Linked DNA regions of Homo sapiens. The protein of the gene in region 1 purifies or fractionates together with the protein of each later gene. This does not show direct contact. Each region holds a gene or a part of one and is shown in the gene's direction. Other genes may lie near its edges. The genes, in order: NUP98, NUP37, E2F3, TWF1, SRP54, RGPD2 and MOB1A.

Region 1 (4,103 bases):
GTTGATAAATGTGCATATTCTGGCTGCTCCATCAACTGGTCATCCCCATCTCTTTCCCTCTCTTTGGGCCTTCCTATTTCCTAAGACCCAATAATCACGAAATTAGGCCAGTTAATAACCCTACAATGGCCTCTAAATATGTTCAAGTGAAAGGAAGGGTAGCACAACTCTAACTTTAAACAAAAGCTTGAAGTGATTAGGTGTACAGAGAGAAGCATGTTGAAAGCCAAGATAGGACAAAAGATAAGCCTCTTTGCCAAACAGCCAAGTTGTGTTAAAGGAAAGTTCTTGAAGGAAATTTAAAGTGCTACTCCAGTGAACATATAAATGATATGAAAGTGAAACAGCTTTCTGGCTGATGCGGAGAAAGTTTTTGTGATCTGGATAGATGAAACCAGCCACAACATTCCCTTAAGCAAAAGCCTAACCTCCCTTCAGTTCTGTGAAGGCTGAGAGAGGTGAGGAAGCTACAGAAGAAACGTTTGAAGCTAGCAGAAGTTGCTTCATGAAGTTTAAGGAAAGAAGCTGTCTTTCCATTCCATTAAAGTGCAAGGTGAAGCAGGAAGTGCTGATGGAGAAGGTACAGCAAGTTACCCAGAAGATCTAGCTAAGATCATTGATGAAGATGGTTACACTAAACAACAGATTTTCAGTGTAGATGAAACTGCCTTCTATTGAAAGAAGATGCCACCAAGGACTTTCATAGCTAGAGAAGAGAAGTCAATGCCTGGCTTCAAAGCTGCAAAGGACAAGTTAACTCTCCCTTTAGGGCTAATTCAGCTGGTGATGGTAAGCAGAAGCTCATTTACCATTCTAAAAATCCTAGGGCCCTTAAGAATTATGCTGAATCTACTCTGCCTGTGCTCTGTAAACGGAAAAACAAAGCCTGGATGACAGCATATCTGTTTATAGCTCAGTTTACTGAATACTTTAAGCCCACTGTTGAAACCTGCTCAGAAAAAAAAAAAATTTCTTTCAAAATATTACTGCTCATTGATGATGCACCTAGTCAGCCAAGAGTTCTGATGAAGACGTATAAGGAGGTTAATGTTTTTATGCCTGCTAACACATCTACTCTGCAACCCATGGGCAAAGGAGTAATTCAGCTTTCAAGCCTTATTATTTAAGAAATACATTTCATAAGACTATAGCTGCCATATAGATAGCGATTCCTCTGATGGATCTGGGAAAGTAAATGAAAACCTTCTGGAAAGGATTCACCATTGTAGATGTATTTGTAGGCCAGGCACGGTGGCTCGTACCTGTAATCCCAGTACTTTGGGAGGCCAAAGCGGCAGATTGCTTGAGCCCCAGGAGTTCGAGACCAGCCTGGGCAACATGGTGAAACCCAATCTCTACAAAAAATACAAAAATTAGCTGAGCATGGTGGTGCGTGCCTATATTCCCAGCTATTTGGGAGGCTGAGATTGGCGGATCACCTGAGCCTAGGGAGGTTGAGGCTGTAGTGAGCCACGACCATGCCAGTGAACTCCTTCCTGGGCAACACCGTGAGACCCTGTCTGGGGCGGATGGTGGGAGAGGAACATTTGTGATTGGCCAGGCATGGTGTTATGTTCCTGTAATTTCAGCTACTCAGGAGGCTGAGGCAGGAGTACTGCATGAGCCCAGGAGGTTGAGGCTGCAGTGAGCCATGATCACACCACTGCACTCCAGCCTGGGTGACAGAGGGAGATCCTGTCTTAAAGAAAAGAAAAACAAAAAAGAACATTTGGGTCCGGGCATGGTGGCTTACACCTGTAATCCCAGCACTTTGGGGGGCCAAGATGAGTGGATCTCTTGAGCTCAGTAGTTCGAGATTAGGTTGGGCAACATGGTGAAACCCCATCTGTACCAAAAGTACAAAAAAATTAGTCGGGCCTGGTGGCACACACCTGTGGTCGCAGCTATTCGGGAGGCTGAGGTTGGAGGGAGGATCACTTGAGCCTGCGAGGCAGAGGTTGCAGTGAGCCAAGATCGTGCCACTGTGCTCCAGCCTGAGTGAGAGAGTGAGACCCCAACAAAAAAATACACAAAAAACATTTGTGATTCATGGAAGGAGGTCAAAATATCAACATTAAATAACAGGAGTATGGAAGGCATTGAATCCAGCCCTCATGGATGAGTTTGAAGGGTTCAAGACTTTAGTGGGGGAAGTACTTGCAGATGTGATGGAAACAGCAAGATAACTAGAATTAGAAATGGAGCCTGAAGATGTGACTGAACTGGTGTCACTCATGAGGAGTTTGCTTTATAGACAAGCAAAGAAAGCAGTTTCTTGAGATGGAATCTACTCCTGGTGAAGATGCTGTGAACATTGTTGAAATGCCAGCAAAGGATATGGAATATTACTTAAGCTTAGTTGATAAAGCAGCAGCTGGGTTTGAGAGAACTGACTTCAGTTATCTTATTTTAAGAAATTAGCATAGCCATCACAACCTTCAGCAGGCAACACCCTGATCAGTCAGCAGCCATCAGCATCAAGGAAAGACCCTCCACCACCAGAAAGATGACTTGCTGAAGGCTCAAGTGATTAACATTTTTAGCAATAAAATATTTTTAAATTAAGGTATGTATATTGGTTTTTTAGACATAATGCTGTTGCACACTTAATAAGTGACAGTGGTATAGTGTAAACATAACTTTTATATCCACTGGAAAACCAAAAAATTTGTGATTTTATTGTGATACCTGCTTTATTGTGGTGGTCTGAAATGAAACCCACAGTATCTTTGAGGTATGCCTGTATGTGCTTTTACTTCTGAAGTCCAGCCAACATTATTTCTCCTTCCTTTCTGTCTTCCTGCCATGTCTTCTGTACTTTTGGAAACTATGCACTTGTGCAGACATTGTGCTCAATACTTTGTTTCTTCAGATGCCATCATTAATGAGAACTATGACTACCTGAAGGGGTTCTTGGAAGACCTGGCACCTCCAGAGCGCAGCAGCCTAATTCAGGATTGGGAAACATCTGGGCTTGTTTACCTGGACTATATTAGAGTCATTGAAATGCTCCGCCATATACAGCAGGTACCTGAGATCCTGAAACTGCTGCCTGATTTTCCTTTTCTCAGGCCCTTAAATCTTCAGATACCTCACAAGGCCTTAGTATACACTTGAGAATGCACTGACAGAGATAGCACTGTCAAAGCAGGCATCTTGCTGAGGCTCATTTGATATAACCGTTTCTGACAGCTATATCGAAACTTAAAAATGCTATTTTATGTTGATTACCAACTAGTATGTGCAATAGACATTCCTGAGGCTTGTCCATAGACAGTCTCTTCCCCTTGTTCAGTCCTAGTTTGAGTGAGAAGCCCAAAGATGAGAGATAAAATAAGAATGGAGATTTGGTGAGGGTGAGGATAGCTGTTTTACACATCATTTGGCATGTTTTAAAATTGCAAATATGGGTTTTAAAGTCAATGTCTTCGGTCAGTTTTTTTTTTTTTTTTTTTTTTGGAACAGAGTCTTGCTCTGTCATCCAGGCTGGAGTGCAGTGGTGTGATCGTGGCTCACTGCAACCTCTGCCTCCCAGTCTTAAGTGAGTCTCATGCCCCAGCCTCCCAAGTAGCTGGGAGTATAGGGTGTGTGCCACCACACGCAGCTAACTTTTGTATTTTTAGTAGAGATAGTGTTTCACCACATTGGCCAGGCTGGTCTTGAATTCCTGGCCTCAAGTGATCGGCCCACCTTGGCCTCCCAAATTGCTGGGATTACAGGCATGAGCTTACCGCACGCCTGCACGCAGCCTTAAGGTCAGTCTTTGTAGTCGTAAAATGAGTCTCCACTGCTTGCTTATGGTGCAAAAACCAAACTCATTATAATAAATATAGGATTCAAGTCCTTTTAGAGGCTTTTACCTTTCCTGCCTTACTCCTACCACTCTTATTCCACGTTCCAGCCTTGCTAGCCTGCTGTACTCACACTAAATTACTTCTGGTGTTTCTAACAAACCATATTATGTTCCACACTACCTAGCACACTTAAACTCATCCTTTTAAGATCTAGGTTGCTGTTACCCCTACTTCTCTCTGCTTTTCCCCAGAGATAATTAATTGCACTTTCTTACTACCAAGATACTTAGTACATTATTCTACTAGTGC
Region 2 (4,103 bases), on another chromosome or scaffold:
TGGTCTCGAACTCCTGACCTCAAGTCATTTGCCTACCTCGGCCTCCCAAGTGCTGGGATTACAGGTGTGAGCCACCCTGCCTGGCCTAGCAGAATATTATTAATAGAACCGTATTTCTCAAATTATAATGAGCACGGTAATTTGGAAGTGTCCAATTTTCAAAGATTTAAAATAACTATCACTAAAGTGATAGTTATTATAAATGTTATTTCCTCCTTTACTGAGAAGGCAATTCTGTTTTTGTTTTGTTTTGTTTTGAGACGGAGTCTCGCTCTGTCATCCAGGCTGGAGTGCAGTGGTGCGATCTCTGCTCACTGCAACCTCTGCCTCCCGAGGTCAAGCAATTATCCTGCCTCAGCCTCCTGAGTAGCTCGAATTACAGGCACGTGCCACCATGCCCAGCTAACTTTTTTGTATCTTTAGTAGAGACGGGGTTTCACCATGTTGGTCAGGCTGGTCTTGAACTGACCTCGTGATCCGCCCGCCTCAGCCTCCCAAAGTACTGGGATTACAGGCGTGAGCCACCATGCCCAGCGGCAATTCTGTATCTTACAGTATTCTGACATCAAAAATGCAATTTGGCATTTTATAGCACAATGAATATATAAAGCTTTACAAATTGGAATATAGTCATATTTAAGAGGAAGTGTGAATTGAAAGTTTCAGTTTGTTGCTGTCTGAGTAGAATATGACAGCTCCTAGCCTATTTCGTACTGTCTGTTTGGGTGGGAGTAGAAATTAATAGCTTTTAGACTAAATATGACCCTAGCCTGACTTACATGGACATGGTTTAGGATCATAAAAAGTCATATGATTAAGACAATGTTACGTACTTGAAAAAGACTGAGGAAAAACCATTTCTCTAATGCAAGCCACCAATGTACAAAAGAGTAAAGCAGCCTCCTACAGGTAAAACTAATTTTTACTTCATTACTTTTAAAATTAATAACAACATAGGATTGTATTCGCAAACACTGAAAAATGTTTATCTCATTTATGATTAAGAAATGTTGAGGGAGAAAGTCAGTGGAGAACAAATTAGGAAAAGAGAGGCAAAGATGAGAGAGGGAGAAGTTGGGAGAAAGAAGGAAAATGACTAACATGAGAAAAAAGAACTAGTATAAACATTTGTGTTCTGTTATAGTTTATGGTCACATGTATTGTCTCAGTTACCCTCATACCTGTGAGATTAGCAATGTAGGTCTCGTGCCCAAATTACTAAGGAAAAAATTAGATTTTTATTAATTTGGACAATAGTAAACACAAATTATATTCTGCATCAGACATTGGAAATACAATTAAGTAAGTCCATTTCAAAATAAATTATTGCTTTTCTGTGGAGTTATTTTTTATCTAGCTAAACACTGTTAAACATTACTATTCTGTTGTCCTAGAACCTTCAAGTTCCATTGCACCCAGTTTCATGCCTCTTGTCTTGAGAGAAAACTAAGTAAAGGTAAATTAAGTGGAAAGATTTTCACATTCCTGACAGAAAGATAATCCTTATTTTAAGGCTGTTTAGAAAACGTTGTAGATATAGTGAATTTGAATTTCAATAAAGCATTTTTCAGAATCTCATGTTGTCCCTTTGATTATGATGGACATATGAGCTTCTGAATGATAGTACTGTTAACTGGTGTCGTGTATTTGTCAAATTTTCATTAAGTGCATACTGGGTGCCAAGACATGAAAAAAGCAAGGACCATATCCTTAAGGAAATATTTACATATAAAGCAGTGCAATAAGAAAACTGCTATAAAAACCTTTGTTAAAGGGCAGAGGAGCATGAACATATATGCTTGCCTAAATCAATGTTCTCATCCAAGTTCTACTAGAGGCCTCAATTCACTAATGAAGACCCCTTGAATAGACTTAGAAATCTGGTATGTATTTTACACTTTTTAAAGTGTACACATATCAAATAGAACTAGCCACATTTCACGTGCTTCATAAGGTCCTGTGTGGCTAGTGGCCACCATATCAGACAGCACAGTTCTCTCTGCATCTTCCTCTGTAAATCGACAGTAATCTTTAATATAATAATAATACTCTGTAGTTCTCAGCAGTATATTATGATTCAGAGAAGATAATGTATTTTAATACAAATTTCAGGGTAGTATCTAAATGTTTAAAACTGTGAAAGAGGTATTAGACTCAATGGTAAATGGATTTTATGTTATTTGTCATCTCTATTTGAATGGACAGAGTTGTTGCTTATAATGCTTTCAGGCTGAGGCTGAATCTGCTGCTTAGTGTGTCTTCACCTAGAGGAGATCAGCTATGGCCAGATATTTGTCATCATTAAGTTAGACTGATTTGGTGTGGTTCCAGAGATGGAACGTGGAATAATGAGTAGAATTTACATGGAAACAGATTTTGGCTTAACGTTAAGAACTCTTCTAATAATTAGAGCTATCCCCCAATTGAATAAACTTCCCAAAGAAATAGCTAGTTCCCTGTCACTGGAAGTGTTCAGAGAGGGGTTGTGTAAACTCTTTTTTTCAGATGCTCTCCTAGGGATTCAAGCATTGGGGGGAAAGAATTGAACTAGAGAAACTTCACAGTCTTGACTAACTGAAATTTGTATTTGGCCTTAAATGGGTGTGGTGGGAGGGCCTGCCAGTTTCAAACCCTTATAATAGCCCTTCCATCAACCTGGCTTTGCCCCAACCTCAAATATGCCGAAACCTTGTATAATCATTTGTATTATAGCAAGTTTTCCAAAGTATCTTAATTTCCTGCCTATACAATTCTGCTTATACCCCAAACTAAATCCAAAATAGCATTTGTCTCTGCCTATACCACACACACACACGGGCCTTTTAGTTGGCTCAGTGGCAAACAGTGCTGCCAGGAAAACAGGTTTCACTGGTAAAACAAAAAGCCCAGGCTGTACAGTCCCTGAGATTTCTTTATCCCCATGACCACCCAGTAATTCCATATGTGATTTGGGTAACAAATTAAAGGACTTGATTGTCAACAATATTGTTACAGTAGCAAGATGATGTGTATTTACATGCAAAAACTTCATTTTTAGGAGACTGATTTGTCAAGTTTGGAAAAATAGATGTAATCCAAACTGTGAAGTCAGCTATGATTAGGCTCCTAAACTTATTTTAAAATTGTTTAGTGGCTGCTGTCTTGGCATATCTGGCTGTTAGCTATACAACTATTATACACACAAATTACGAAGTAGTAAAATTTGACAGTGTTTTTCTTTCCTTGATAAGTGTATTTCTTTCATTTGTGGAAAAACTTTTTGCTGTTAACTCTTAAGTTCACCTGAAATTTGAAGTTATTTTCAAAGGGTATCTGAATTATGCAGAGAAAGATGTGTAGTATATTTGTGAAATGACTTTACTGGGATCCCATAGGCTATCCTGGAAAAATCAGTATATCTACTTGGATTTCATTCGAGTATACATTATAAAACTTTGCATTTAGATTCTGGGTGAATGGAATGCTTAGATCAGGCCTTCAAGTAATTCCTATCAATATAGACATACGTATTTCATTAAATATCAAGTTTCACCTGCTGGATTTTTTCCCTGATACTTTATAATACCATACACTTTTATAAAGAAAACTGTAGTTAGCACAGAAGATTCCTTGGACAAATTTGTCGCGAAAATTTGGCCTTCTTTAGTCTCAAACCCAGTTCAGGTATTGATTTAAATAACAGAAGGATGATTTACTTATTTTTAAAATTGCAAAATTTTTTTATCATTTTCTTTTTTACCTTTCCTATGGTGCTGAGCAGTATTTTAATGCTTATAAAAAATGTGTTATCCATAAAGGCATAAAGAGTAATAAGATGGATCCCTGTATACCTGCTGCTTAGTTTAAGAAAAGGAACATTAGCAATTCTTTTGAAGCCCCCTAAGTATCCTTCCCTTACTCATGGTAGGTATTTTGCATGGCAGGATTTTCTTTTTGTTTGTCTGTTTTTTCCTGCTTTCCCCTTAATCGGGCCCTGGATCTATGCAGAAATCTCTGATCTGGCATCCTTCCTTGTGCAGGCACTAGGATTTGTCTCTTCTCTCTTGCAAACTGAAGCTTTAAATCATTGCATGTAGGCAGATACCCTTATAACAGCTGCATAC
Region 3 (4,103 bases), on another chromosome or scaffold:
AAAATGACCAAGGCCGGGCGCCGTGGCTCACACCTGTAATCCCAGCACTTTGGGAGGCCGGAGGCAGGCAGATCACTTGAGTCCAGGAGTTCAAGACCAGCCTGGGCAACAGGGTAAAACCCCATCTCTACTAAAAATAAAAAAAATTAGCCGGGTGTGGTGGTGCACGCCTGTAGTCCCATCTGTTTGGGAGGCTGAGGCACGAGAATCATTTAACCCCAGAGACGGAGGTTGCAGTGAGCTGAGATTGGGCCACTGAACTCCAGCCTGGGTGACAGAGCAAGATTCTGTCTCAAAAAGAAAAAGGAAATAACTACCAAGAGTACTGAGATATTATACTTTTCTCTTTTCCTAAATCAGTGTTTCTCAAATTCATTCAAGTCGCAGAGCACCTGGAAACTGCTTTCTTCCTCATGAACACTGAAATATTGATAGAGTTAATATAGTATCACGCAAAGCATAATTTTTCTAACAGAAATAATGACACTCTTTTCTGTAGGCAGTACATAATCACAACCAGCCCAGGTGCACTTAAGAAAACAAGCTGTCTGCCTGAGCAGTATTCTGAGTTCCTCCACTAATGTATTTGTTACTTATTTATTTACTTGGTGGCTGCTGACACTTGCTTGTAGATAGAAGTAACTGGAGTTTCAAAAAAATTATGGCTAATAGAGATTACATTTTTTTTTCCTGCAAATTGGAATCTGCCATCATTCAGTTTGAGTGACAGAACACTTTATTGGAGTTCATGGAATGCCTGTGCTGCAAAGGACCCTGGCTTCAAGATAAAATTTCTGACCACTTAGTTTTTTATTTTCTTATGATCATTTATTTTAACTGTTCTGTTTCTATGTTTAATATTTTAAATAGCCATAGTCTTTTTAGAAATGGGCGGGATAAAGCTATTCATTTCTTTAGTTGTTTAGAGTGTCAACCAGAAATGAAGATTCATGGGAGACCCTAAACATTTGCACATCCAGAAGGGGAGACATACACATACTTTTTTGAGAAGGAGTCTCGCTCTGTCGCCCAGGCTGGAGTGCAGTGGCGCGATCTCGTCTCACTGCAAGCTCCACCTCCCGGGTTCATGCCATTCTCCGGCCTCAGCCTCCCGAGTAGCTGGGACTACAGGCGCCCGCCACCACGCCTGGCTAACTTTTTGTATTTTTAGTAGAGACGGGGTTTCACCGTGTTAGCCAGGTTGGTCTCCATCTCCTGACCTCATGATCCACCCGCCTCGGCCTCCCAAAGTGCTGGGATTACAGGTGTGAGCCACCGCGCCCGGCCACATATGCATACTTCTAAGTCATAAAATACTTTAAAATATTCCATGCATCTATTTTGTCATTTTCATCATACTTATATCTGAGGTAATTAGATGGAAGATTCCTTGACACTCTTTACGTTAGCTTATGTTACATATCAAGATATTCGAAAAATTAGTGGCCTTAAAGACCAAACTGTTATAGTTGTGAAAGCCCCTCCAGAAACAAGACTTGAAGTGCCTGACTCAATAGAGGTAAGGAGACAGCGTCTTTGTTCATCTGCAAAGATCTTTGTGGAATGCCTGAAATTGAATGACTCATTGACTCATAGTTAAAGTCTGTCCCCCTCCTATGAACTTGATGGTTCTTTCCCATTTATTTTACTTAACCATACATTTGAAAACATTTCAATGGTTTGATGTTCATTGAGTATTCAAACAACCTAACTTTGACCTAGCAGGATGTTCAGTTCAAAGTGGTATATGATGCGCTGTCCCTCTCATACTTTCTCTTTTTCATAATTTGTCATCAACGGTTTTGATCAATTTGAATCACTTTGGAAAGTTTATATTGATTATCCTGTATATGGTCCCCACCACGAACAGATATATAAATGTTTTAAAGTCTCTCCCTAACTTATAACATTTTGAGAGATCACATGGGGCTTTGGGTTAGCTGATAGACTAGAATATTGCAAGAAAGTAGGGGGCATATTTTTGTAATTTTCAGATATACTTGGATAATAGAGGCCTAGACTACAACTATAACATAAAGAGTTGTAGTAAAAAGAAAATGCATAGGAGATAAAAAGAGAATGAAAGTTACACGCTTCCATCTAGGGTAGACTTCTTACCTTAAAAGATAATAATAGCTCTTTGACCTAGATGAAAAAGATTTTTAAATGTTGGTATGCTGCATTCTCTTAATAGATGCAGTTCCTAGCACTTAAGAATACTATTCATCAGTATACAGTTCAACATGAAAAAGTCCTACCATAAAGGAACAATAACATGGAGATACTGAATTTGGAACACTTAAAGGACCTTGTAATAATTTGCAGAAAAAGAATATATCCAAAGAACACAATTCACCTCACCCATTGTGCTATTTTCAGAATGACTCCCCTCTCCCCCAAGCCCCACTAAAATAGTTTTCTTTCTCTAGGGCAGGACTCAGCAAACTTTTTCATTGAAGTGCCAGGTAGATAGTAAATATTTTTGGCTTTGCGAGCCGTACAGCCTGTGTCTAGACTATTCAACTGTGCACCTCTGACATTGTGATACGAAAACAGCCAGAGGCAATAATAAACAATGGGAATGGATGTGACTCTCTTCCAATAAAACTTTATTTACAAAGCCACTTGGTGAACTGGATTTGGCCCTTAGGCTGTGGTTTGCTGACCCCTGCTCTAGAGGATGACAGTCTTTCATAGAGTTGGACTAGTAGGGAAAAAGCAAGTGAAAAACGAACATTGTTCTTACTTTCCATTTTTAGACAAGAATTACTATGGCTTTTATTTCTAAAAGAACTTCTGATTCGAACTTCTCCCACTTCTGTTCATAGAGCCTACAAATACATTTGGCAAGTACCCAAGGGCCCATTGAGGTTTACTTATGTCCAGAAGAGACTGAAACACACAGTCCAATGAAAACAAACAACCAAGACCACAATGGGAATATCCCTAAACCCGCTTCCAAAGGTAAAAACTCCACTTTTGTCTTTTAGAAACTATGTTAAAAATGAGGGTGACTAGAACCATCTGTATTGGAACCACAAGCCTAGGCAAGAAACACAAACTTCTATTGGTATTAGGTAACATGTTTTAAAAGACATTCTGACTGGTTTGCAGAAGAAAATAATGATTTGGGAAAAACGGCTCCTTCACCCACTTATGGAGTCGCTTCAGGCTTTTGCTATTGGCAGAGAATGTTTCCTTACAGCATTTTTGAAAACCAGCTAAAGTGAGGAGCAAAGCTGTGAACTGTCTTGTTGGATCATCAGAGACACTTGGCCACACACCTTTGAATCACACTGCAGAGCTCATCAGAGAGGGAAATGAAAAAGGTTTGAGGAGAAAAGCCTTTGTTGGAGAATTTTTGTCTTATTTTCCCCCCCAATGAGATGGGGAGAGGATATGGGAGGAGAACGCTAGGAAAGTAAGTCTTGCCGGGTGCGGTGGCTCACACCTGTAATCCCAGCACTTTGGGAGGCCGAGGCAGGCAGATCACGAGGTCAGGAGATCGAGACTGTCCTGGCCAACACAGTGAAACCCTGTCTCTACTAAAAATACAAAAATTAGCTGTGCGTGGTGGCACGTGCCTGTAATCCCTGCTACTCGGGAGGCTGAGGCAGGAGAATCACTTGAACCAGGGAGTCGGAGGTTGCAGTGAGCCGAGATCCGCCACTGCACTCCAGCCTGGTGACAGAGTGAGACTCCATCTCAAAAAAAGAAAAGAAAAGAAAAGAAATCTAACTTCTCCTTCCCGCTCTGCAAAGAGCAAAGGAAGCTCTTTGCAGTATATATTTTTCCATTTCCTAACTTGAGGAGATATATATGCAATTGTTTCCCTTAGTGTCTCCCTATATAGCAGCAAGAATAAGGGTGATTTAAGTGAATAAGTCTGATTTAATACTGAGCAAAAGTACATCACCTGAAATGGTAAAACAAAAGGCCATCTTTCTTCACCACAGAAATCCAAAGTGGATCTGTCTTATTGTATGTATTTTTAGAGATCTTTTTAATAAGCTGGTTGTTCAAAAAAGACTGAGTTAAAATCAGTGAATTCTGCATGTAGTCCCAGCTATAGGGAGGCTGGGGTGGCAGGATCGCTTGAGCCC
Region 4 (4,103 bases), on another chromosome or scaffold:
AAAACATGAGAATAAGAGAAATACTGTATTTCATATAATATTAAAGTTAGCTGTAATGAATATGTAACTTTGAGTTTATTCATTTGTATCTATTTGACATTGACAAGTGATATTGAAACATACTGATTCTTCTAAAGTATATGGTAAATATATGTATTTACACATATATACACAAATTGAAACACTGAAATATATTTTTGAACTTTTTTGTTTGTTTAGAGCTTTTCTGATTCAGAAAGTCATATAATCTAGTGGATAGAGCACAAGACTAGATGGGAATATATTGCTTCTTCACCATTAATTGTGAAGTGGGCTGGTTTCTTAATTTCATGAGTCTCAGTCTTCTAAACCACAAAATTTTGATGATAGGTAGACCTCTTTGTAGTATTTTTTTCTTTTGACATGAAAACTATAATAATTTTCCATGAATAATTACAAAGAAATTATATTAAGCATTATAACATAGTATTCAGAATCTGAATATGTTGATTATTGGATAATCATTGGGCAGTTTTCTCCAGAAGGTTAATTACAGTTGTCCTATAGACTTACAGGATGACCAGGTTCAGTATTTCACTTTGCCAGTATGAAACTCATACAAAATATTTAGTAATTATAAAGCTTCATATAAAATGAACAGTGGGTACTCCCCTTAAAAAGTTTTGAAACTTAAAATTGAGGATTAAAGAAAAGTAAAAAGATATTAAAATTCATAATGCTATTTATTTTCATTTAAAATCTTTTCTGTTAATGATTTTGTTTTTCCTAAAGTAACTTCACTGTCATTTTACTTCTAGAGAATTACTGATTATAGTCTATTCTGTACTTACAGGAAGATGTATCATTACATGGATATAAAAAATACTTGCTGTCACAATCTTCCCCTGCCCCACTGACTGCAGCTGAGGAAGAACTACGACAGATTAAAATCAATGAGGTAAGTTACAACTACAAAGTCTTTGCAAGATTTTAAGTGTTTGAAAATACTGTATTTTTAATTAATAGATGTGGGAGGATAACTAGAGATTAAAGAAGTTAGGTAGCTTAGGTTTATTCCGTTTAGTTTAGAGATAAGGCTATGTGCTTAATGCCTTTTCAGAAAAAAAAAGTTAAAATGAATATTAAACTTTATATGCATTTTATAAATAGCTTTTCCTATAATCTTCATGTCAGAATAGTAAATCTTCCTTTTGAAGTACAACTGTTGTGAACTTTGTACTTTGAATATTATATAGAGAAAAAGTGTGTGTTACCCATTTAGTGCAAAGAATGTATCTAATAAGGTTGCCTGAAGCAGATTATTGTTTTGTTGGCTTTCTAGAGAGTCTACAAATTAACTTCTATGAACTCTACTTGAATAGAGATATATATGGAAGATTATTATTTGAGTACCTGTTGAGCATATTAGAGTCAATAAATTTCAGCCATATTATTTTGTAGTTTATCATTATTTTTAATGTGTTTTCTACAGCCATTCTAACATACTGGAATAACTACTGTATTTCTACTGGGACTTTACAGAAAAGAACAAGTGGCTGAAACCACTATTCATTAGCTGAAACCACTGTTCATTAGCCTGAGTCACAGACAGTAGGAATCAGTCTGGAGAATGGTTGAATATCATTTAATATTAAACTGGTAGCAAGGATCTATCATATTATTTTAATTCATATTATTTGAGTAGGGCTTTTTATGTGATTTTTTTTTTTTTTTACGAGTTTGATAGTTTGTTTTATTTCTTGCAATCAGAGCCCAGAGGATCATATTGGGGTATGCATTCGCATATGTTCTATGATGTTTTCATTAACCAATATCATTTATGCTGTAGAATCTCCATTCATTTTTTTAAAAGTAAAATTTCTATTGGACTTTCTGTTGCAACACTGCGAATGAGACTCTCTACTAGCTATCATTTATCAAGTATAAAAATCTTAAACATGTGCATTGAATGCTTTCTTATCTTTCTCCTCTTCCAGTACATGCACACCATGTTCTTAGTAAAGAAATCTCTTAAGTCTGGAACTTCTGCAGTAGTATAACTTGTTGAGCTGTGTTGTCTTTGTACACTGTTTGTACTCCTTTCAATTCAGTGCATGATGTTTGTGTTGCATTTTCTGTCCAACAGAACAAAGTAAAGTTCTATACATATTGTATGTAGATTGTTGTTTATAAATTCTATCAAGTAAAATTTTACAATCAGTGGTGTAATCTGATGACACTCTAAAGAAATTGTGCCAAACCAAACATAAAAACAAACCCACCCAAACCCCACTAACTGTACACTCATTCAAATGTTCACTTCCAACATTGTCGTAAAGATGTGTCATGCACTCTGCATGTTGACAAAATGCTAGCAGGACCGTAAACAAATGTGAAAAATAATTTTAATTATAGGTTGGGCTAGGGTTGAATGATACTATTTTATAGAGGTTGGGTTTTCTTATGTTTGCCATAGGATACTGCTAACTGCTAAACTTGTAAATTAAATCTGTCATACTTAGGTACAGACTGACGTGGGTGTGGACACTAAGCATCAAACACTACAAGGAGTAGCATTTCCCATTTCTCGAGAAGCCTTTCAGGCTTTGGAAAAATTGAATAATAGACAGCTCAACTATGTGCAGTTGGTAAGAGATGTATAATGATTATTAAGTGGCTGCTCTTTTTGGTAGTTTATGACTCATATAGGGTTTATTATTAATGGATTTTACATTTTAAATAGCTTTCTGATTTCTAAAATTCATTTTGTAAATGTTCATTGTGAAAAAGTCAAACCATCCAGAACTAAGTTCCTCCTTTATCTCTTGGTCTTTTTATTATATGTTTTAACTTAATTTCCTTATATCTGGTTTTAATGAACATATTTTGTTTCTTATTGGCAGGAAATAGATATAAAAAATGAAATTATAATTTTGGCCAACACAACAAATACAGAACTGAAAGATTTGCCAAAGAGGATTCCCAAGGATTCAGCTCGTTACCATTTCTTTCTGTATAAACATTCCCATGAAGGAGACTATTTAGAGTCCATAGGTATATGATACATTGTTTTTAACACATTACTTTCAGTTTGTTTATTGGTGTATCAGCCCTATATTCTTACTTATTTCTTGCCCAGAGGGCTTAGCTGTAGTTTTATGAAGTTTCTGTACTTGTTTTTATGAAGTTTATATATGTAGTTTTATGAAGTTTATGTATTGATATGCTAATTATATTTGTTATTATTTGAACTTACAGTTTTTATTTATTCAATGCCTGGATACACATGCAGTATAAGAGAGCGGATGCTGTATTCTAGCTGCAAGAGCCGTCTGCTAGAAATTGTAGAAAGACAACTACAAATGGATGTAATTAGAAAGGTAGCCCACCTATTTTAAAATCTTCAGTTTTTGCTAAATTTTTCTTTTCATTTCTATGTAGTTTATGATGTACTGTGATTTATAAATGAAAATATTTATTTTTCTTGTTATCATCCTAAATCCTTAGGATCTCCTCTAAGTGCCTGGGAACTACCTGTCATGATCCCCATCTCTATATATATCTGTACTTCCTAGTAAGCCACATGTGGCTATTTAACTTTAAATAAGATTTAAAGTTCTGTTTCTTAATTCCACTAGCCTTATGTCAAATTCTCATTAGCTAAATGTGGCTACTGGCTACCGTATTGGTTAGTGCAGAATTTATAGGACATTTCCATCAGTGCAAAAAGTCCTATTGGACAGCGCTGCCAGAGCTGCATACTTGTGATTATTTCTACTGCATATTAATAAGGAATTACAGTCTCCATTATGACTGAATTATGGGATGGTTGGGAGTCTTTCCAGTTTGGGGGAAGGAAGGAATAAGCATAAACATTTGAATTTTGGGAACTAAGCTACCAATTTTCTTAAATTTTCTTAAGTACAGATAAGGCATGGGGAAAGATATATATTCTTGAGCCCTTAAACTCATAAAAATACAGGTCCTTAAAAACTACCAGTGTTTTTAGGTTCTGAACCCTTCATGCTTTTTAAGTTCCTAAGAATCAATCACTTTATCATGGGTAGCACCTTCTATAGCAGGGATCAGCTGACTTTCTACAGAGGACCAAATAGTAAGTAAAG
Region 5 (4,103 bases), on another chromosome or scaffold:
CTGAGATCTCCAAGGGTCTCCTAATTTCCACATGTAGTGACCTTTCTTGTTTTCCTTGGTTCCTAATATTTAAGTGTTTTCTGCCTTTTCTGTTTTCAGACTCTAAGTTCTATGTCTGTGGATTTCTTATATTATTCTAGCTTTAATTATCACTTCTGTATAAATGGCCAAATATGTATTTCAACCTTAATCCTCTCTTCCACTGTTTAATTCTGCGTTTCTAGTTGACTGCTATAACATTTCTTTTAAGATACTGTACTGCCACTTCACATTCAGAATGCCTGAACCAAATACCTTTTCTCTTTTTATCTTTAGGACATAAATAGAAAATACTTTCTCTTTTGGCTTGTTCCATCCCTGTTTTTAAACCTTAGGTTAGTATACATACAATGAAATGCTCAAATCCTAAGGATACCTTTCTTTTTTTGACAAATGCACAGTAACCCACACCCAATCAAGAAACAGAACATTTCCATTACTCTAAAAGGTTTGCTTGTGCCCTTTCCCGGTAATACTTCATATTATAGAAGTCCTGGGCTGTGCATGGTGGCTCACACTGTAATCCTAGTGCTTTAGGAGGCCAAGGTGGGAGGATCATTTGAGGTCAGGAGTTTGAGACCAGCCTGGGCAATGTAGTGAGACCCATATCTCTTAGAAAAATCCAGTGGCATGCATCCATAGTCATAACTACTCTGGAGACTGAGGCAGGCGGTCACTTGAGCTCAAGAGTTTGAGGCTACCAGTGTGTGATGACTGTACCACTTCAATCCAGTCTCAGTGATAGAGCACAACCCTCTTAAAAAAATAAAGAAATTCTGAGTATATCGTTTTTCTTCCAATCTGTTTTCTTTGACTAAGCATATTTTGATATTAATTCATGTAGTTGTACTTATCTATAGTTTGTTCTTTTTATTGCTGAATAATATTTTTTCCACAGTGTATCCATTTTCCTGTTCATAGATACCTAAGCTATTTAAGAAACTCCAAACAATCTTCTAAAGTGTCTTGCTATTCTATATTCTCACCAATATATGGGAGTTCTTTGTGGTCCACATCCACTTTAACTTTTGATATTGTCAACCTTTAAAATTTTACTCATCCTAGTAGGTGTAGTTTATGTGCCTTGTTTTCAGGTTTCTTGTGTGTTTGTATATGTGTCTTCTCAGATAGAATGTAAGCTTCTCTATGATAGGACCTGTCTTTGTCTATGTATTCTCCCCAGCATTCATCCTGTCATCTTGCACATGGTAACTGCTTGGTGAATATTTATTGATGTATATTTTATAAATATGCTTCAAGATGAATTCATGATTAAGGAATAAATTAGTTTTGTTGAATGGAAATGTACATACTTTAATATATCCGAATTATTTACATTGTATTTCAGGTCAGTTTACGTTGCGAGACATGTATGAGCAATTTCAAAATATCATGAAAATGGGCCCCTTCAGTCAGATCTTGGTTAGTTATCCTTAAAACTTTATACCTTCTTTTGTTTTCATTAAATTTTCTAAAATAGATACACTTGCTTTAATTATTTTTACATTCGGGTAAAAATATATCTAAGACTTAGTGTCAATATTAAACCTAATAGTTAAATGTGGACATTTTGAACCATTAATCTTAAGCTACTATTGACTTTATGTTTAAATCTGTTGTAGGGGATGATCCCTGGTTTTGGGACAGATTTTATGAGCAAAGGAAATGAACAGGAGTCAATGGCAAGGCTAAAGAAATTAATGACAATAATGGATAGTATGAATGATCAAGGTAAGATGGCAGATTATTTTCCTCAGGCAAAAATGTTCTGAGTATCAGTAAGATGAGAGTTTCACTGTATTCTTGTGGACAAGATGGGGAGAAATTTAGCCTGAAAGATTATTTTTAGGTAGATTTGTAATAGCTTGAAAGCTCTTACTCAAAGGGTTATGATTATTGGATTGCCTTCATCGTTGAGAGAAATGTCTAGTATAATACTTCTCCAAATGAGTTACAAGGAAAGAACACTAGTTCTTCATGATGTTCATAGAGTTAACTTAAAAGGAGAACTCTGAGTCAAATGTGGTGGAATGCTAGTTTTTAAAGAGTTAAATTTGGCTGGGTGAGGTGGCTCACACCTGTAATCCTAGCACTTTGGCAGGCCAAGGTGGGAAGATTACTTGAGGCCAGGAGTTTAAGACCAACCTGGCCAAACGTAGCAAGACCCTGCCTCTATGAAAAAAAATTATTTACTGAAAGTCTCTTCACGGAGCTTTAATATTGCTAACATACATTGGGAAACTAAGAAATGGATAGCTTAAGCAATGCTTAGAAAATTCTTTCTGTCTGAAACATAAGAATTCAGTTTTCTCAGTATACTGCTCTGTTCCCCTGACCCTATAAAGGCATGCCTCAGAGATACTGTGGGTTTGGTTCTAGACCACTGCAGTAAAGGAAATATCATGCAATAAAGTCAGTCATACAGATTGTTTTGGTTTTCCAGTGTATATAAAAGTTATGTTTACAAATACATATACTGTAGTCTATTAAGTGTGCAAGAGCATTATATCTAAAAAACAATGTATATACCTTAATTTAAAAATAGTTGATTGTTGGCCGGGCGCAGTGGCTCACGACGCCTGTAATCCCAGCACTTTGGGAGGCTGAGGCGGGCGGATCACCTGAGGTCAGGAGTTTGACACCAGCCTGGCTAACATGGTAAAACCCCGTTTCTACTAAAAATACAAAAAAATTAGCCGGGCGTGGTGGCACACACCTGTAATCCCAGCTACTTGGGAGGCTGAGGCAGGAGAATCGCTTGAACCCGGGAGGCGGAGGTTGCAGTGAGCCGAGATTGTGTCATTGCACTCCAGCCTGGGCGACAGAGTGAGACTCTGTCTCAAAAGAAAAAAATAAAAAAATATAGTTTATTGCTAAAAATGCTAATGATCATCTAAGCCTTCAGTGCATTATAATCTTTTTGCTGGTGGAGGGCCTTAGCTTGATGTTGATGACTGCTAACTGATTACAGTGATGGTTGCCAAAGGTCAAGGTGGCTGTGACAATTTCTTAAAACACAAGAATGAAATTTGCCCCATTGATTGACTCTTCTTTTCACAAAAGATTTCTCTGTAGTATTCGATGCTGTTCGATAGCATTTTACCCACAGTAGAACGTCTTCCAAAATTGGAGTCAGTTCTGTCAAACCCTGCTGCTGCTGCTTTATCAACTAAGTTTATGTAATATTCTAACAATTTGAACAATTTTTCATATCTGTGCTTTATCTACTATCTGATTTATTGTTATTTTTTTGTAGTCTCTTTTTCCTGAGCTCCAGGTTTTCATAGTAGCCCAAATAAGACTGTCTTTTTCTTTTAAGGTTGTTTTTTTTCCTCACTGTCTTTAACACTGCAAAAATGTTTGCATGTAGAATTCATAATTGCAGCATATCTAAAGTATCCATTCTGTGCCAGGCACTGTCCTGAGCACTTTAAATATATTAATTCATTTTATCATCATAACAACTCCTATGGCATATTCAGTTATTATCTGCCTTTTTCAAATTAGGAAACTGGGATACAGGGAAGTTGAGTAATTTGCCCAGTATAGAACCTTTCCTGACTTCCTTCCTTCTTTGAATTAACGCCCCTTCCTCTATTTGCTTAACTCTGTCGTATTACTTGCCACGATGTGCTGCTATTAGTTTATCTTCTTTCATTTGATTTGAGCTGTTGGAAGGAATATAATATATATGTTTCATAAATCTTTTATAAGGAAGATGTGGCTTAAAAGCTGCATTTATGAAATGGATTTGGAGGTTTTGATCGTGACTTTATTTTGAGATATTGTATCTTTGTTAGTATTGCATTGATAATTAGACTTCACCTGGATTTCAGTTCACTTCTGGACAATATACTTAGAGGGTATGTATAGACAAATTAAAAGATGTAGGAAATCAGGATGATAAATGGGGTTCTAAACCATGTTAGAAGAGTCAGAGGTGGATATTTGTCATCCAGCGAAAATTCACAGGAGACATGGTAGCTCTTATGCATTTGAAAGCTGGCCAGGTGCGGTGGCTCTCAACTGTAATCCCAGCATTTTGGGAGGCTGAGGTCGGTGGA
Region 6 (4,681 bases), on another chromosome or scaffold:
GAGAACAGAGAGAAAGTCTTTCTGAGTTTGGCATTCTAGTAGGAAGAGGCTATATTAGATTAGATTCTACTTCATTCTTTAATCCCTGCAAGCATCATTTCCACAGGATTCTTGGTGCATGGGTATTCAGCATTAGAATGAACACTTCGTGGGACTTTATGCAGCCACCTGTTCCAATACTATGCACTATTAGAAAGTTATTCCTTAAATTGAATAAAATTTTTCTACCCTATGACTTTCTTCCCTTAATGTTAGTTATACCCTCTGGGCCTACAGAAAAAAGTCTATTCTCTCTTCTGCATGACAGCTCTTCAAATATTTCAACACAACTGGCATGGTTCTCCTTAGTTTTCTCATCCCCAGGCTAAACACCCACAGAAGATTATACTGTAGCATTAATATCTCCACCTTGCATTTCTCTACACGCCCACATGTCTTCTCCTTTGTTACTTTTCTCTAAAACAGTGGGAACAATGAAAAATTATGACATATATGAACTTAATTACATAATCTCAGTCACCTCCTACTTCACTCCCCCACATAGCTTCTTTGCAGACCTTGTAGTGAAGTGCTGTAGCATTTAGAGGAAAGAAATCATTCAGGAATCATTTGTAAACCAACAAGGTTTATTTTAACCCTAAAAATCATAGAAATGTAAAAGACAAGCACATTCTAGAATTAATCATCATTCCCATTGAAGCTATTCATGGTAGCAAAGACTAAATAAATATATGAAAATATTTTATATTTTAAAAATTGTAATGAATTTACAAAATTTACAGGAGCAGATACAGTAACAGGAATCAGCTATGTTGCTACAAGTATATTTTAGAATCAGATTTCCATTTGAATTTCAATTATGCCATTTACTAGCTGTGTGTTCCTATAGACTTTACAAGTAGTATCTGAGTCACAATGTCTTTACAAAGAGAAAATAATTCTTAACTGAGATATTTACTGTAAAGATATAAACAAACCTATGTATAGCAGATTGGAACAAGTTCAGCTTATCTGAAAGCATACAAATGAAAATATTGAAATAAGCAAATGAATGGTTTACAGCACCCGCCTCGGCCTCCCAAAGTGTTGGGATTACAGGCGTGAGCCACGGCGCCCGGCGGGCAAGACACCCTCAGAGCACAGGGTGCTGCCAAGAGCCCGGCCGAGTGCAGCTCGAGCGCCGACGTCGCCAAGGATACACAGTGCTGACGCAGTACACAAGTGCGTCACAGTGGTCCTCCGCCGGCTACGTCAGTGGCTTTCAGGCGCTTTCCTGTTGGAATTGGCGACTGCTGCGGGGCTGAGCGCTGGTTTCACGCGTCTCGGGAGCCAGGTTGGCGGTGCGATGAGGCGCAGCAAAGCCTACGGGGAGCGGTACCTCGCCTCGGTGCAGGGCTCCGCCCCGTCGCCTGGAAAGGTGAGTGGATCTCGAAGAGACCGACGGCCTCGACCTGGCCGGGCGGCGGCCTCGACCTGGCCGGGCGGCGGCCTCGACCTGGCCGGGCGGCGGCCTCGACCTGGCCGGGCGGCGGCCTCGGCCTCGGCCTCGGCCGGGCGGCGGCCTCGGCCTCGGCCTCGGCCGGGCGGCGGCGGCGGCGACGGCGGCCTCGGCCTCGGCCTCGGCCTGGCCGGGCGGCGGCGGCGGCGGCGGCGGCGGCCTCGGCCTCGGCCTGGCCGGGCGGCGGCGGCGGCGGCGGCGGCCTCGGCGTAGGAGCCCGAGAAGATTAGTTGTGGCAATAAAAATGATTAAGGATACTAGTATAAGAGATCAGGTTCGCCCTTTAGTGTTGTGTATGGCTATCATTTGTTTTGAGGTTAGTTGGATTAGTCATTGTTGGGTGGTAATTAGTCGGTTGTTGATGAGGTATTTGGAGGTGGGGATCAATAGAGGGGGAAATAGAATGATCAGTACTGCGGCGGGCAGACCTAGGATTGTGGGGGCAATGAATGAAGCGAACAGATTTTCGTTCACTTTGGTTCTCAGGGTTTACTATAGTTTTTTATTTTTATGGGCTTTGGTGAGGGGGGTAGATGGTAATTTGTATTTAATATTTTTAGCTGAGTGATGAGGAATAGTGTAAGAAGTATGGGGGCAATTATGGTGGGCCATACGGTAGTATTTAGTTGGGGCATTTCACTGTAAAGAGGTGTTGGTTCTCTTAATCTTTAACTTAAAAGGTTAATGTGCGGCGGCGGCGGCGGCGGCGGCGGCCTCGGCCTCGGCCTGGCCGGGCGGCGGCGGCGGCGGCCTCGGCCTGGCCGGGCGGCGGCGGCGGCGGCCTCGGCCTCGGCCTCGGCCTGGCCGGGCGGCGGCGGCGGCGGCGGCGGCGGCCTCGGCCTGGCCGGGCGGCGGCGGCGGCCTCGGCCTCGGCCTCACCTCTCTTACACTTAGAGTCTTTTTTTTTCCCCCAAATTTAAAGTCATTTACATTAGAACCTGGGGATTTCAACGGAATATGGATTAACTAGTGAGTAACTTTGGAACATGTGAAGCTATTCTGTAAAGTTAGGTTTGAGTGAAATGACAAAACAGGGTGCTTTGGATAGAAGGTAAGGAATGGAGGGAGAAGAGGCAGTGGCTGTGAAGAATATAAAGAGGTTAGTATTCTCCCCCAGTTTGGCAGAGGCTGGCCATCTGTGAACTGCCCATGCTTTCTAGAATGTCTGAGTTTTGGAGTGTGATGATGCGTCTGTATATCATATCTTTCTAGTCTTCCATTGTGCTTTCATTTGTTAATCTTCTCTTGTTTTGCCATTTTTCTACTCCCTCACATGTGCTTTTGCCCTTCTTAAAAATATTCTTCGTCTGTAATCCGAGCACTTTGGGAGGCAGAGAGACCAGCCTGACCAACATGGTGAAAATCCGTCTCTATTAAAAATACAAAAATGAGCCGGGCGTGGTGGCAGCGCCTGTAGTCCCACCTACTCGGTAGGCTGAGACAGGAGAATTGCTTGAACCCTGGAGGCAGAGGTTGTGGTGAGCAGAGATTGCGCCACTGCACTCCAGCCTGTGTGACAGAGCGAGACTCTGTCTCCAAAAAATAAAAAAATAAAAAAATATATAATTCTTTCTCTAGTTTTTCTTTTTCCAGATGGCTTCTGTTTAGTTTTTCTATGTTCTGTCAAGTTGGTTTCTTATTCTGCAGCTGATTCCTACTTCTCAAACTCTACTTGACAGCTCTTATTTTTATTTATTTGTTTTTTAGAATAGGGTCTTGCTGTGTTGTCCAGGCTGCCATCAAATTTTTGGGCATAAATGATCCTCCTACCTCTGTTGCCTGAGTACTTAGGACTACAGGCAGGCACCTTTGACAGCTGTTAGTTTTTTTTTCTGCCCTTTACATCTATACTTCATGCTTCTGAGTAACACACACATATACTTTTGTTATTTTGAATTCCCTTTCTCCCATTTTAGACATTTTGTTTTCTTTTTTTTTTTTGAGACAGAGTCTCGCTCTATGGCCTAGGCTGGAGTGCAGTGTCGCGATCTCGGCTCACTGCAAACTCTGCCTCCGGGGTTCACGCCATTCTCCTGCCCCAGCCTGTAGCTGGGACTACGGGCACCCGCCACAACACCCGGCTAATTTTTTAGTATTTTTAGTAGAGACGGGGTTTCACCGTGTTAGCCAGGATAGTCTCGATCTCCTGACCTCATGATCCGCCCGCCTCAGCCTCCCAAAGTGCCGGGATTACAGGCGTGAGCCACCGCGCCCGGCCCCACTTTAGACATTCTGTACTGGCTATTATGCTCCTCCAAAACTGTCCTCAGACACTTTGCTTTGCCCCTCATTGTTTCAGTACTGTTATTGGAGTTTTTGTTTAAATGAATATTTAACATTTATATAAATATAAGGTAAATATTTTGCATTTGAATTGCCCTTGTTGTGCAGTTTTGTTTTTCCTGGACTGAATAATTGCTTTATTTTTTGGTTTGCTTGTATGTTGTGTTACTACTTGGTTACTTAAACTCAGCAACTTAAACCCTCAAATGTGGTCAAACTGGTCACATAATCCGATCAATTTCAGCTTAAAACATTGATTGATTGATTGATTGATTGATTGTCTGTCTACCTGGAATACCCTTACTAACCGACTTCTCCAACCCAGATTGGTTTTTCTTCCTCTTTGCTACACAGCTGTGCTCTTGGGACTTCCCTTTATCACCAGTTTGAGAATTCCCTTCATCTTTTTTCTGAGTTAGACCCTTTGTTTCTTGTATCTCATGTCATCTTCATTTACTTTCTTTGTTTTGGTGTAGCATAGTTCACTTGCTTTGAGGAAAAGTGGATGAGAGGTTTTTTTGTTTGTTTTTGTTTTGGGACAGAGTCTTGCTCTGTTGCCCAGGCTGGAGTGCAGTGGCATGGTCTCAGCTCACCACAACCTCCGCCTCCCGGGTTCAAGTGATTCTCCTGCCTCAGCCTCCCGAGTAGCGGGATTACGGGTGTGCGCCACCATGCCCGGCTAATTTTTTCTATTTTTAGTAGAGATGGAATTTCACCATACTGTTCAGGCTGGTCTGGAAACTAATGGTATGTCTTTAAAACATCTTTACTTAATTTAGTTGATCATTTGGTTATCGAATTCTGAGTTTGAAATAATTTTTTTCGCAATTTTGAAAGCATTGCTCCATTTTCCAGAAGTTCTGTTGTTAGGAGTCTGATGAGAGTCTTGTTCTTGGTAAC
Region 7 (4,103 bases), on another chromosome or scaffold:
GTCCATTGATGATAATAAATTGATGACCAAGAATCTCAGAAGAATGTAGTGGATCCATCGGCTCCATGCCCAGCCCTCAGCAACCTTCTGCTTTACAGGAATGCAGTTCCTTTGTGTTTCCCAGGGCTGTGTTGTTAATAAAACATCTATCCTGGCATTGCCTCCTGCCACATTATCTCCCTTTTTTCTTCCAGTTATAACTGTCACTTTCTGGATAATTACATAGGGAACTCACAGTAATCTTCAGTAGAACTTAAGGTGATTTATTAAAGTTAGATGTAACTTCTATTGACAAAATGTGAATGAACCTGTTTTAATCACAACTTGCACATTTGTTAATATTTTTGAAAAATTTATCAGTAAAACATTTTTCTCTTCAGATATGAATATCACTGGGCAGATGGTACTAATATTAAAAAGCCAATCAAATGTTCTGCACCAAAATACATTGACTATTTGATGACTTGGGTTCAAGATCAGCTTGATGATGAAACTCTTTTTCCTTCTAAGATTGGTGAGTTAACATTGTCGAAGTATTCTTTCTTTTTTTAAAATTTTATTTTATTAATATAAATAGAGTTGGGGGGGTTTGCTGTGTTGTCCAGGTTGGTCTCAAACTCCTGGCCTCAAGTGATCCTCCTGCCTTGGCCTCCCACAGTGCTGGGATTACAGGTTTGAGCCACCGTATCCAGCCTGTTTCTCTTTTTGAATGATAAATCTGCTCTTTTTAACATTGTTATACTTGTAGAGACTGCCAAATTCTCCTCCAAAAAGTTTGTACCAACATGTACTCCCCCCAGCCCTGTTTGTGTTTGCCAGTGTTTCTTCACCAACACTGGTTATTACTCATTTTTTAATATTTTCTAATTTGGTTAAATTTCTGTTTTAATATGCATTTAAAAAATGTTGATGAGATTGAGCATTTTAGCCTTTTTGTTTGTTTTATTGATCATTGTGTGTTTTCTGTTTATATCTTTCATCTATTTCTGTGTAAAGGATATTAGCGCTTTGTCGTATGTGTTGTATATCTTTTTCCCCGGGTTACCTTTTGTCTCATTTTGTTCATGGAGTATTTTTGCTGTACACAACCTTACTATTTTGTCCTATTATATCTTTTATGACTTGATTTTAATATAACAATTAGAAAGCTTTTCCCTGCTTCAAGATTATAAAAATATTTATTCATGTTTTCTTTTTTTATTTTTTTATTTTTTGAGACAGAGTCTCACTCTGTTGCCCAGGCTGGAGTGCAGCGGCACAATCTTGGCTCACTGCAATCTCCACCTCCCAGGTTCAAGCAGTTCTCATGCCTCAGTCCCTGGGTAGCTGGGACTACAGGCACATGCCACCATGCCCAGCTAATTTTTGTATTTTTAGTAGAGATGGGGTTTCACCATGTTGGCCAGGCTGGTCTTGAACGCCTGACCTCAAGTGATCTACCTGCCTTGGCATCCCAAAGTGTTGGGATTACAGGCATGAGCCACCACGCCTGGCTGGGAAGTTTTTTTTCCCTGAATGCTACATTAATTTTTTTCCAAATGGAAATACTAGTCAGTTTGTCCCATTACCATTTATTAAACACATTTGCCTTTTCTCCCCTGATTATCTTATGTGCACAACAAATTGCCATATATTTTTGCATGTTTTAGTCTCTTTATCTGTTCCTATAGAAATTCCACACGTTGGTGACTGTGGCTCTGCATCTGTTAGCATCTTGTAAGGCTGGTCTCCCTTCCTCGCTCTTCTTTTTCAGAATATTCACAGCTATTCTGGGATATTTGTTTTTCCAAAGAACTTAGAAACATTTTGTCAAGGTGAAAAAAAAATTAGATTTTAATTATGACTATATTTAATTTTTATAGATAGGGATTCTTTTTACTGAATCTTCCTAGCCAAGAACAAGATATTGTTCATTTATTCATGTCTTTAGCTTTATTTTCTCTTGTAAAATTCTGTAGTTTATGTCAGTTGTTCAAGTTTCTTAATTTTATTCTAGGGATTTTATGTCTTTTATTGATAATCTGGTTTCCAGCTGGTTATTTAGTATATAGGAAAGCTGTTGGTTTTTATTGTAATTTATTTTTAATTTTTTTTGAGACAGGGTCTCACTCTGTTCCCCAGCCTGGAGTGCAGGGGTGTGATCACAGCTCTCTGCAGCCTTGATCTCCTGGGCTCCAGTGATCCTCCCACCTTAGCTTCCCAAGTAACTGGGACTGTAGGCACGCACCACTACACCTGGCTAATTTTGTTTATTTTTTGTAGAGATGAGGTCTCATTATGTTGCCCAGGCTGGTCTCGAACTCCAGGGCTCAAGCATCCCTCCTTCCTTGGCCTTCCAAAAGTGTTGGAATTACAGGTGTCAGCCACCAGGACTGGCCAGCTGTTGATTTTTATTTAAATTTTATAATTAACCATCAGACTCTTTTTCTGTTAGTTTTTGGTTGGTTCTCTTGAATTTTTAAAGTATACAACTGTGTCATATTAAGATAGTGTTCATTTTGTCTCTTCCTTTCTGATAATGTATTCTTGTTTTTACGCTTGCTTATCTGATTGCACTGAGTGGTATTTCAAGCGCAATGCCGAGTAATGGTGATGATGGCAGACATCCGTTTCTTGCCTTCTTACTATTATGCAAGTACTTCTAGTATTTCTGCAGTAAGCCGAAATCTTGGCTTTTGGTTAGAGGTGTATGGATTTTTAAAAAATTATATTAATGAAAAATATCCACCATTTATATTACAAAAATTGTTCTTAACGAGGAATGGCTATAGAGTTTATCAGATGCTTTTCCAGTATCTGTTGCCTATGACCATAAGGTTTTCTCCATTTTTTAATAAAAATATTCTGCTGGAAGAGTATTTGTTAATATTTTGATTAAGAGTTTGGCATCAGTATTCATGGATGAAATCACTCCTTGTCATTTTCAACTTAAGAGTATTTTATGAGCAACATATTTTTGAATTCCTTTTTGCAGTCTTATAGAGGCTTTTCAGGACAACAGTTTTTTTCCAAGTTGTTAACATTTGGTCTGTTTGTTGTTGGTCAGTTTTTCCATTCTGCTATTAAACCTTTTATTTCCTTTCTCATATATCTTTATTTTATATTGACTGTGCTTGAATATATCTGTTAAATTCAGCTTGGAAAGTGTTTAGATTTAAACAAATTACTTATTTCTTTACTCATTAAAGTCTCTGCTTATGGAAGGTAAATAATTCTTTTGATTTATCCTCTTTTCTCTCTTTTTTGTTTGGAGACAGGGTCTCACTCTGTCACCCAGGCTGGAGGGCAGTGGCACAGTCTCGGCTCTACTGCAACCTCCACTTCCTGGGTTGAAGCGATTCTCGTGCCTCAGCCTCCAAGTAGCTGGGACTACAGGCGCCCACCACCACACCTGGCTAGTTTTTGTAGTTTTAGGTAGAGACAGGGTTTCACCATGTTGGCCAGGCTGGTCTCGAACTCCTGACCTCAAGTGATTCACCCACTTTGGCCTCCCAAAGTGCTGGAATTACAGGCATGAGCCACCATGCCTGGCTTTTTTCTCACTTTCTTGTTCTTAAATAATTCATTCTGATCCACCACCTCTTAATCCCACTCCCCTGCCATTAGGCTATTATCTGCATCTTACTTTTGCCAGTTATTTAGTCTCAGACAGAACTGTTTATCATTAATTTTTTACTAATATATGCACATTATTAATATCCTTTTATTAGAAAGATGCCCATTTATACATTCTGATAAAAAAAGATGTTTGATTTTGAAATCTACTTTTTTTTTTGAGACAGACTCTCACTCTGTTGCCCAGGCTAGAGTGCAGTGGTGCAGTTACAGCTCACTGTGGACTTGACCTCCCAGGCGCAAGTGGTCCTTCTACATCAGCCACTTGAGTAGCTGAGACCACAGGCACGTGTGCCACCACGCCCAGCTAATTTTCAATTTTTTGTAGACACGAGGTCTCACTGTGTTGCCCAGACTGGTCTCAAACTTCTAGGCCCAAGCAACCTTTCTGCTTCAGTCTCCCAAAGAGCTTGAGATTACAGGCATGAGCCACTGCACCTGGCCAGAATACTGCTTTTTTTTTTTTTTGAGGCGGAGTCTCACTCTGT

Evidence for each region.
Region 2: the proteins of NUP98 (region 1) and NUP37 purify together in Homo sapiens (affinity purification with mass spectrometry; 2 studies listed by BioGRID and IntAct, with this or other methods). This does not show direct contact.
Region 3: the proteins of NUP98 (region 1) and E2F3 purify together in Homo sapiens (pull-down; one large-scale study listed by IntAct). This does not show direct contact.
Region 4: the proteins of NUP98 (region 1) and TWF1 fractionate together in Homo sapiens (co-fractionation; one large-scale study listed by BioGRID). This does not show direct contact.
Region 5: the proteins of NUP98 (region 1) and SRP54 fractionate together in Homo sapiens (co-fractionation; one large-scale study listed by BioGRID). This does not show direct contact.
Region 6: the proteins of NUP98 (region 1) and RGPD2 purify together in Homo sapiens (affinity purification with western blotting, with the first as the bait; one study listed by BioGRID). This does not show direct contact.
Region 7: the proteins of NUP98 (region 1) and MOB1A purify together in Homo sapiens (affinity purification with mass spectrometry; one large-scale study listed by BioGRID and IntAct). This does not show direct contact.

What each region holds. Positions count from the first base shown.
Region 1 is NC_000011.10:3,678,478-3,682,580, reverse strand, and holds part of NUP98 (nuclear pore complex protein Nup98-Nup96 isoform 1 precursor), read left to right. Parts: intron 1-2,872; coding exon 2,873-3,027; intron 3,028-4,103. UniProt on the Homo sapiens protein: Plays a role in the nuclear pore complex (NPC) assembly and/or maintenance. NUP98 and NUP96 are involved in the bidirectional transport across the NPC. May anchor NUP153 and TPR to the NPC.
Region 2 is NC_000012.12:102,113,156-102,117,258, reverse strand, and holds part of NUP37 (nucleoporin Nup37), read left to right. Parts: intron 1-4,103. UniProt on the Homo sapiens protein: Component of the Nup107-160 subcomplex of the nuclear pore complex (NPC). The Nup107-160 subcomplex is required for the assembly of a functional NPC.
Region 3 is NC_000006.12:20,485,285-20,489,387, forward strand, and holds part of E2F3 (transcription factor E2F3), read left to right. Parts: intron 1-1,404; coding exon 1,405-1,519; intron 1,520-2,828; coding exon 2,829-2,964; intron 2,965-4,103.
Region 4 is NC_000012.12:43,796,232-43,800,334, reverse strand, and holds part of TWF1 (twinfilin-1), read left to right. Parts: intron 1-832; coding exon 833-937; intron 938-1,749; coding exon of another isoform or gene 1,750-1,770; intron 1,771-2,501; coding exon 2,502-2,627; intron 2,628-2,882; coding exon 2,883-3,033; intron 3,034-3,237; coding exon 3,238-3,359; intron 3,360-4,103. UniProt on the Homo sapiens protein: Actin-binding protein involved in motile and morphological processes. Inhibits actin polymerization, likely by sequestering G-actin. By capping the barbed ends of filaments, it also regulates motility.
Region 5 is NC_000014.9:35,017,305-35,021,407, forward strand, and holds part of SRP54 (signal recognition particle subunit SRP54), read left to right. Parts: intron 1-1,387; coding exon 1,388-1,461; intron 1,462-1,661; coding exon 1,662-1,770; intron 1,771-4,103. UniProt on the Homo sapiens protein: Component of the signal recognition particle (SRP) complex, a ribonucleoprotein complex that mediates the cotranslational targeting of secretory and membrane proteins to the endoplasmic reticulum (ER).
Region 6 is NC_000002.12:87,822,394-87,827,074, reverse strand, and holds the start of RGPD2 (RANBP2-like and GRIP domain-containing protein 2), read left to right. Parts: upstream 1-1,278; 5' UTR 1,279-1,345; coding exon 1,346-1,417; intron 1,418-4,681.
Region 7 is NC_000002.12:74,161,629-74,165,731, reverse strand, and holds part of MOB1A (MOB kinase activator 1A), read left to right. Parts: intron 1-380; coding exon 381-514; intron 515-4,103. UniProt on the Homo sapiens protein: Activator of LATS1/2 in the Hippo signaling pathway which plays a pivotal role in organ size control and tumor suppression by restricting proliferation and promoting apoptosis.